Regions from separate parts of the Homo sapiens genome. Here region 1 is reported to be linked to region 2. The links are microRNA targets in miRTarBase. Many come from high-throughput screens and were not tested one by one. Region 2 holds a microRNA gene; the other region holds the end of a gene's coding sequence.

Region 1 (4,384 bases), not on the chromosome of region 2:
AGGTGATCTTTCCTGGGGAGAAAGACCCTTCCTGGAGTGTGGGGTGGGTGTTCCTTGGGGTGGGTCTTGTGGGGGGTCTCCTTTCCCAGAGCCTGGGGATTTTCAGGAGCAGATCTCCCTAGAGATGGGCCAAGTGCCCTCAGCCACCCCTCTCTGCTGCGTTCCACTCTGGACTCAGCTGACCAAGCTCTCCATCCTTGTCCCCACTCTCTCTCATCCCCAGGTATAACGAGGAGGAGAAGAAATGGGAGGGTGTCCTGCGGGAGATCGCCTATGCAGCAGGTGCCACCTTCCTACCAGTGCGGCTCAATGTGCTGTGCCTGACTAAGATGTGACCAGCTCAGGCAGACTGAACTAAGCACCCCTCCCATCCTGCGACCCTCACTGGCCTGGCCTTGTGGGGGCTCCAGAAAAGAGGCTAGGAGAGGCCAGAGTCTACCTGGATCCAGTTATGGTGCCTCAGGGGCTGCGTCAGCCAAGGAAAGGGAAGTGCTGCTTAGTCCTGGACTTTTGGGCAAGGGTGAGAAACTAGAGGCTTCTCCAGTGTTGCCATATCCCCCTAGGTTGTCTTGATCCATGAACCAGAACCACAGGGCGGTATCCCAGGCCGTGTGCTGGCCCTGCCCCAGCCTAGCTGAGTGTGCTGGCAAAGTTCCCCACAGGACTCAGCCTTCTCGTCTGTCCGATGGGAGCATCCCCATCAAGTGCAGTGTACAGTGCAGATATGTCTCCTTCTTTAGGAAGAATAAAGTGCCTTCTGAGCAAGCAGCTCAGGGTCTGCATCAGTGCTCCAAGAGTCAGTGAGCAGGTGTGTTGAAGACTTGGGGCTTCAGTGTTCTGCTGTTGGGCTGCCAAGGTCGATGGTCTCTGCTCTCCATCTGGTGTCCCCTCCACCCTATGGGTGGGAACCCTCCCCTGCCTGAGGCCTAGAGCCTCCAGCTCCTCAGCCACTATGGACGTGGAGCCAGGGGACTGTGGGAAGAAGGGTCAGGGAACAGCCAAGCTGTTGTAGAAAAGTCTTTTATTCTATCGGTCAGGCCCCATCTGGCCCAAGAATAGCTGAGCAGAGCCCATCCCTCTACCCGCTCCCTCCTACTCCGGCTTCTCTTTGTCCTGCTTCTGCTCCTCCTCCAGTGCCAAGGTTCGCTCACGCTCCTTTACCAGCTGGACGCCACAGTAGGTGACAAACAGGATGGACAGCGTGGTCTGGGGGAACCCTGTGTGGGGAGGGAGTCATAGATGCTCAGGAGCAGCACTGCATCCTCAGCGACTTTTGTCTTCCCACCCCTCTCCCCGCTTGATGGGCCCTCCCTTCTGAGTCCCAGGGGTGATGAGGGAGATAGGAGGCATTTTGGAAGGTCACGGTCCTTGAGGCTGATGCCTGGCACCTTCTGTATCCCCACACCCCTGTCCCTCACCTGTGAGTAGCAGGCGCCGGGCAACCAGCTCTGTGAATTTGAGGCTGTTCAGGCTCACAAGGTTGTACATGATGATGGCCCAGAAGTTCATGGCTCCAAACAGGGCCCGGACCCTACGGGACATCTGCACTGACAGAGAGGCCTATCCGGTCCAGGAAAGCATGGGCAGCGGGACAAGAGGCCAAAGGAAAGAGGACATGGTGGGTCAGCAGCCTTACCCACCTGGCCAGTCAGGTCTTGGGGCTATGTCTGGGTCTCGGAGAGCCCCAGGTCAGCTCTCCCTCCTTGTTAAACATGGGGAAACAGGTCCAGAGAGAGGACAAGGCCTGACCAACATGGCAAGGCCCAGGTGCTCCATTCCTCATAGAAGGGAGGGAGGGGCAGATTCCTACAGAGTGAGCCATTGCTCTGACAACTAAGAGGGTGGTGGTGAGAAAGTTCTGGATTAGGGGCCAGGTGTTTGGACAACTCCAGAAAGCAGCAGTGCCCCCCCGCCCTCTATGACCCAGCCAGTCCCAGCCCCAGGTCTTCCCTGCTCACCTCAATTCGTGCTAGGGGCCCCCACTCTGCCAGTTTTTGCATCCAGAGCTCAAAGTTGAGGCCAAAGCAGTTAAGGAATGACCACAGGTAGACAATGTCACAAGGCCCAAGCCACAGTGTGGTGATGGCAAATGTGGCCACTGTGGCTGCCAGCTCTGGGATCACAGCGGAATGCTCCCCACCAATGTGGTTATACACATATCTGCAGGAAAGATGGGAGAAGGGCCACTGGGAGTGTGGGAAAGGGCAGGGATGAGATGGGAGAGGACACACAACAGGGCGTCCTCCTCAACACTGTCACCCTGGGTGCATTCAACATTCCTGACCTCACGTAGCAGCTCCTCCTCCAACCAACTTCAAATTGTGGCAGGCTCAGCCTGGGACATTATAGCTTCTCTATCTCTGTTCGTTTACTTCCCAAATGATCTCATCCAGACCCAAGATTTCAAGTACTAGCTCTATGACGATGACCCCTAAATCTGTGTCTTTAGCCCAGTCTCTCCTGATTTGTATATGCAATTGCTACTAGCCATGTCACTTGATTGACAGATTCCCCTATCCCTGCTCAAACCCAGCTCCGTCCTCATCTCAGTGAATGGCACCACCATCCATTCAGTTGCTCAGGGTATAAGCCTTGGTGCCATCTTGGATTCTCAGTTTGCCTCATCACCCACATCCAAGCAAGCCAGCAAATTCTGTTGGCTCCTCTCAGTCCTGACCACCACTCACCTCCTCTACCACCACCACCCTAGTCAAGATGATCACTCTTCTCACATAAATTATTGCAAGAGCCTCTTAAGTGGTCTTCTTGTTTCTGCTTTTGCCCCCATGGTTCATTCTCCACACAGCAGCCAGAGGCATCTTTTAAGAGTGTAGCTCAGGTCACATCACTTCCATGATTAACCTCTCTGAATAGCTCCCCATTACAATAGGAATAAACTCAGTCTCTTTACTCTGGCTAGAAGATCCCAAGTGGTCTGGTTTCTGTTCCCTTCCTGACCAAATCAGCCACCATGCTCCCCCAGTTCATCATGCTGGCCTCACTGGCCTTTCTTACCTTTACACCCACACAGTTGGTTTGTGTCTCAAGGCCTTTGCCCTTGTTGTTCCCTCTACCTGGTATTCTCTGCTCCACATCTCCTTATCACTCAAATCTCAATTCAAATATCATCTCCTCAGAGAAGCCTGCCTAGACCCCGACTAAAGAAGCTTCTACCCTGTTGTCAACTTCTATCCCATTGCAATTTTATTTTCTTCATAACACTTACCACTCTCTAAAATTATCTTATTTATGTTTGTTTACCTGTTTATGGTCTGTTTCTCCCCACTAGACTGTAAGCTCCATGAGTTCAGGGTCTTTGCCATGTTCACTGCTGTATCCCCAGTGCCTAGAACAATGCCTGGCACATAGGTGCTCAATAAATATTTGTTAAATAAGTTCTGTGGAAGACCCAGGAATAACCAGCCTCTCCATTCCTCGACCTCCTCATTTCCAATGGCTTTTTCTCCACTCCACCTCAGCCACCCACACCCATGGCCATGCCCCAACTTTGTCACCACTTGAAAGTTCACTCCTTTCTAATTCCCATTCTTTGCCCAACTCCTCTTGACCTCCTGGCCCCCCAGCTTCAGTTCTTCAATCCCATTGATCTTGTGACCCTCCCACCTTCACCACCGTCCTTAGCAGGCTTATATCCAATGAGTCATGACTATAAATAATCTAAAAACCCTTATTCCTGACTTCTTCCTTGTCATCCATCTGGGAGAGCCCAATCACTTACTTTCTCCTCAGCTACACCCAGGCAGCTAAGCCCCATGGGGGAAATCTCACATCTTCACATGCTGGAGTTCATAAGCCCACCACCTCCAATACCACCTGGGTACTCAGTGCCAAGATTTCTCTAGTCAGCTGCTTCTCCCTTGCTCTGCAAGGGCCACTGTATTCTTATCTCCCCACAAGTATGAGTGGAGAGATAGTATGAGTGGGGGGATCCAGGCTGGGTTGTGGGGGTAAGCATATATGTTGCCTCTCTCCACGTCCCTGTCCTGGCTTTCTCAGCTGATGGCCGTGCCTCCTGCTTCATGGACAAGGCTGAAGCCTTCAGGTGGAATCCCTTACTTGTCTACATTAACCTGCTTTCCTCTGCATCCACACTGGCTTCTCTTCCTCCTCCTCCCACTGAAGCCAGGCCTCCGCCTGGAACTAGACACCCTCACCTCCTTCCTCTTCAGGGACCTCACTCCATCAATCACCCCTGTATCCTGCATCCCCAGCTTCTCTGTTGAATAATTCTTCTTAGCATGTCCCATTCTCTCCTATCTTTAACACATCCCTCTTCTCCCTCAGCCACTCCTGTCTTCCCCCTGCAGTCCCAGGCTTCTTCCAGGAGTCATCACACACTTCTCTACTCCTCAGTTGACTTTCC
Region 2 (4,384 bases):
AGATAGAGAAATAGAGACAGAGAGTCAGGGAGTCAGGAATGGCCAAGGCTGCCCTTAGAGCCCACAGGTGTCGTAAGCACCTTCCAATGGCTTGGCATCTCCGAGAACACCTTGCCACTCATTCCTTGAGCCTTTCCACTTACCCCCTCCCAGGTCTCCTAGAGAAACTGAGGTCAGGGAGAGGAGGATCTTCTCAAGGTCACCTTCCCTTATCCTGGACACCACAGGGAACAGTTCAGACAGCTTTATTTTTATCACCAGAGTTTTAAATAAATACACAGTTCCATCAGACCAGCCCCCGAGTCCCCAAGAAGGTCACCCCAATAAATTAATAATAAATAACAGACTTATATAAATACAGCTGTTTGGGCAGGAATCGGGTGTCTCAGGAACCTTGAGCCCATTCCACAGGGCAGGACAACTGAGGTCGCGTCCTCCGCGCAGGTGCACAGTGGAAGGACCAGGACTGCTCATATGCAGTGGCAGTCTTTGGCTAACAAGTCATCATAGGTCTGGAGCGACACCCCGGTGTCGGTCTTTTGAATGAGCACCATGGGATTGTAGCTGGCGGGCACGCAGCAGGGCGCTGGCACCGTGTCGGGCTTCAGGCGGTGCAGGCTCGTCTTGATCTGCGCGTGCATGTTTGCCGCCCGGAACTGGCTCGGGCACGCGCCGATGCACATGGTCACTTGCACCTCCCGTGGCGACAGCACCCAATCGGCCCAGCCCAGGTCTTCCAGCGACGCGCGGACCGTGTGCAGACGGCAGCAACGCCCGGGCCCGAGCGGACAGTGGTCCCCGTTGCGCGCACGCGCTCTGCGGCGCCCCCTGGCGGCTTGCGGCCGCAAGTGCAACTCCAGCTGGGGCCGTGCGGACGAAGATTCTGCCAGCAGTTGGTCCGACTGCGACGGCGGCGGCGACAGTCGCAGGTGCAGCGCGGGCGCCTGGGGTCTTGCAAGGCTGAGCTGACGCCGCAGCGGTCGTGTCACGTCCCACGACCTTGACGCCGTCGGGGACAGCCGGAACAGAGCCCGGTGAAGGCGGGAGGCCTCGGGGAGCCCCTCGGGAAGGGCGGCCCGAGAGATACGCAGGTGCAGGTGGCCGCCGGATCCCAGCCGCACTGTGGGAAGACAGATAGGGAAGCTGGTCACCCACAGGCCTACCGTTTTCCAGGAACGAGGGTGCCCATTTCCCCTAACACGCCAAGCTGGATCTCACCACGGCGGCGGCGCCTTTGCACAAGTTATTTCCCCTACCAAGAGCATTTCTCCGTGCGGGCGCGGTGGCTCACGCCTGTAATCCCAGCACTTTGGGAGGCCGATGCAGGTGGATCACTTGAGGTCAGGAGTTCAAGACCAGCCTGGCCGATATGTGGCCAATATGGTGAAACGCCCGCTTCTACTAAAAATACCAAAAATTAGCTGGGCATGGTGGCTGGCGCCTGTGATCCCAGCTACTCGGGAGGCTGAGGCAGAAGAATGGCTTGAATCGGGGCGGTGGAGGTTGCAGTGAGCCAAGATCGTGCCACTGCACTCCAGCCTGGGCAACAGAGGAAGACTCCCTCTCAAAAAAAAAAAAAAAAAAAAAAAAAAGGGCATTTCTCCCCTTGAATCTCCTGAATCTCAGTATGGCTGGCTCCTCCTCTTCCTTCCAGCCTGCCTAAAATAGGAAGCACCCTATTTTATTTCCTTGTGTATCATTCATATTCCCTACTTAGAATCTTAGCTTGGTTGACACTGTGCCTGGCACACAATAGGTGCTTAGTAAATACTTGAAGGAATTAATGTATATCTGATATTCAGGCAGCCTGAGATTCCAACCATGGCTCTGCTTTTCTTCTGGCAGTCAAAAACTTACTTGCTTCACTTATTTATTTATTTATTATGGTCTTGCTGTTACCCAGGCTGGAGTGCAGTGGGGCACTCATGGCTCAGTGCAGCCTCAATCTCCTGGATTCAAGTGCTCCTCCCGCCTCAGCCTCCTGAATAACTGAGACTACAGGCACACACCATCATGTCTGGCTAATTTTTTTTAAACATTTTTGGTAGAGATGGATTCTCGCTATACTGCCCAGGCTGCAATGTTCTGGCCTAAAGCGATGCTCCCACCTTGGCCTCCTAAAGTGCTGGGATTACAGGTGTAATCCCGAGAAATGAAGAGTGCCAAACCCATCACATTCCAGACTACTGAGCCTCTAGGAATCACAGCCCCTCAGGCTGGTACAAGTGTTAGGGAGACTGGGGAGACTGGGGTTTGAGGGTGCCTTAACCTAGTTGCTAGGCTTAGCAAGGGTGAGAGGTTTGCCGGAGTCACACGGCACAGATGGGTTTAGGGCGGGCTAAGAGTGTGCCCCTCTGCCTGCCCCCTCCTGGGTCCCACCACAGCCCAGACCTCATCCAGTGCCCTGCACCCCTGGAGCCTCCATGGAGGGCACAGAGATGGGGAAAATACTCTCCTCCTCCCCTAACAAGTCGCTCGTTGCATGTGACTTTAGCAGTGCCTTGACAAGCGATTTCATCAGATTCAGAACCAGCTCCAGCTGGCTCTGCCCATCACAAACTTCTATCCATGCACCACACCCCCATTGTTTCTCTTGGATCCTGGCCCCAGCCCAGGTCAGGGACCATGCCCACACCGCACGCCCGACCCCGTCCCCGGGTTTCCCAGGTGCTGTGCACATTCAGGAGGGTCCCTGGCATCCCTGTACCTCAGTTTCCCCATTTGCAACTTGGGGACAGGTTATAACCTCCCACGTTGTGGGTGCAAATCAGGCATCGGCTACCCCATCAGACCCAAGGGGATCCAGGATATTCCTACCCAGGGCACAGATGGGGCAACTGAGGCTCAAAGGTAGGTCTGGGCTTTTCAAGATGAGGAATCCCTGATTAGATATGGGGGCTGCTTGGGGGGTGGGAGGGGATCTCTAAGATTTCACTTACCTTCTGGCGTGAGTATCCGGACTGCAGGGGCCGGGACGAGGTCGGTGTTCGAATCTTCCCAGCTCTGGTTGGCCCGCAGCCTGGTTAGCAGGTCCTCGTAGCGTTTCCGCAACTCTCGGAATCTGGAGTCTTCGGAGTGCAACTCTGAGGGTCCCGGGAAACTTGCGCGGCTCGCCTCGGCCAGAGACAGGGCGCCCCCATGCGGCAGCCACGAGAGCACCAGCAACACCAGGAGCATCTGAGAGCCATTCACCGTCCTGAGTTCTTGCCCGGGCATGGCTGTGCAGGTTGCGGCTCTGAGCTGGGACTGACCAGATGCTGCCGGACCGGCCTTTATAGTCCCCGGACTTTGTCCGTCTCCGCCTGCTCAGTCCCGCCCTCCTCCCCCTGCCTGCAGAGTAAACACTCCAATGACCACAGCTGGGCGGGGTCTGGGGGTGTATTTAGGGGGAGGATCTTTAGGTGGGGGCGCTCCTAGTAAAGCTAGGGCACATTTCTGGGCCTCAGTATCCTCTTCCTCGATATGAGGACACCATTCCAGCCTGGGAGTCTTTTTGGAGGAAAAAAAGACATTGTTACTATGTGAAAAATTCCAGACAAGAGTTTAAGAGGTGGCTGTCTATGCCCATGGGATTTCCTCTCTTCTCTTTTTGGTTGGGGTCAAAGGCTAAAGATGGTGAAAAACAAAGGAAGCAGAGGAGAACGGGCTAGATGGAGCCAGGAAGGGCAACCTTGATGTGTCATGCCTCTCTGCCATGCCTGTTTCCTCACCAGGAAAAAAAGGACTGAGACTCTCACTGGAGAGGTGGTCAAATGAGGGGTAAAGCACAGGGCCAGACACATAGGAGGCACTTGATAAACTGGGTGTTATTGCAGTTACTCATCCTCCTCTGGAGAACTCCTACTCATTCTTCAAAACTCTACGCAAAAAGCCCCTCTTCCAGGAAGTCTTCTCCAACATTATCTTTCCAGTCTAAGCAGGGTGCTCCCAAACCCCATCCTTTTGTCTGGCTCAGCGCTCACCTTGAAGCCATCCTCACAGGATTCATAATTCTGGGGGCCAGGCATGGTGGCTTATGTCAGTAATCTCAGCACTTTGGGAGGCCGAGGTGGGTGGATTGTTTGAGCCCAGGAGTTCGAGACAAGTCTGGGCAAGATGGCAATACCTCATCTCTAAAAAAAAGAATTCTGCGCCGGGCACGGTGGCTCTCGCCTGTAATCCCAGCACTTTGGGAGGCCGAGGCACGTGGATCATCTGACGTCAAGAGTTCTAGACTAGCCTGACCAACATGGAGAAACCCTGTCTCTACTAAATATACAAAATTAGCTGGGCTTGGTGGTGGGATTACATGCCTGTAATCCCAGCTACTCGAGAGGCTGAAGCAAGAGAATCGCTTGAACCCAGAGGGCGGAGGTTGCAGTGAGCCAAGTTTTCACCATTGCAC

The links. Region 2 holds the annotated microRNA hsa-miR-3189-3p (CCCUUGGGUCUGAUGGGGUAG, at 2,779-2,799, opposite strand). A microRNA usually pairs through its seed, bases 2 to 8, with sites in the 3' UTR of a target mRNA and lowers its output. Matches are read on the target gene's strand: a 7mer-m8 pairs with bases 2 to 8, a 7mer-A1 pairs with bases 2 to 7 and ends in A, and an 8mer does both.
Region 1: miRTarBase lists KLHL40 as a target of hsa-miR-3189-3p. Seed matches in the 3' UTR shown: 7mer-A1 at 476-482.

The regions. Positions count from the first base shown.
Region 1 is chr3:42,691,659-42,696,042 of GRCh38, forward strand. It overlaps KLHL40 (kelch like family member 40), which reads left to right. Exons shown (of 6, transcript NM_152393.4): 6 at 224-886. The coding sequence ends at 335. HHATL (hedgehog acyltransferase like) reads right to left here. Exons shown (of 12, transcript NM_020707.4): 10 at 1,959-2,160; 11 at 1,419-1,560; 12 at 1,005-1,217. The coding sequence ends at 1,093. Among named protein-coding and RNA genes, the nearest start is that of KLHL40, 8.3 kb to the left of the region's middle.
Region 2 is chr19:18,385,022-18,389,405 of GRCh38, reverse strand. It overlaps MIR3189 (microRNA 3189), which reads right to left and starts at 2,844; the gene lies at 2,772-2,844. GDF15 (growth differentiation factor 15) reads right to left here and starts at 3,248. Exons shown (of 2, transcript NM_004864.4): 1 at 2,940-3,248; 2 at 230-1,120. The coding sequence starts at 3,216. The coding sequence ends at 471. RefSeq lists enhancers at 3,124-3,293, 2,882-3,704.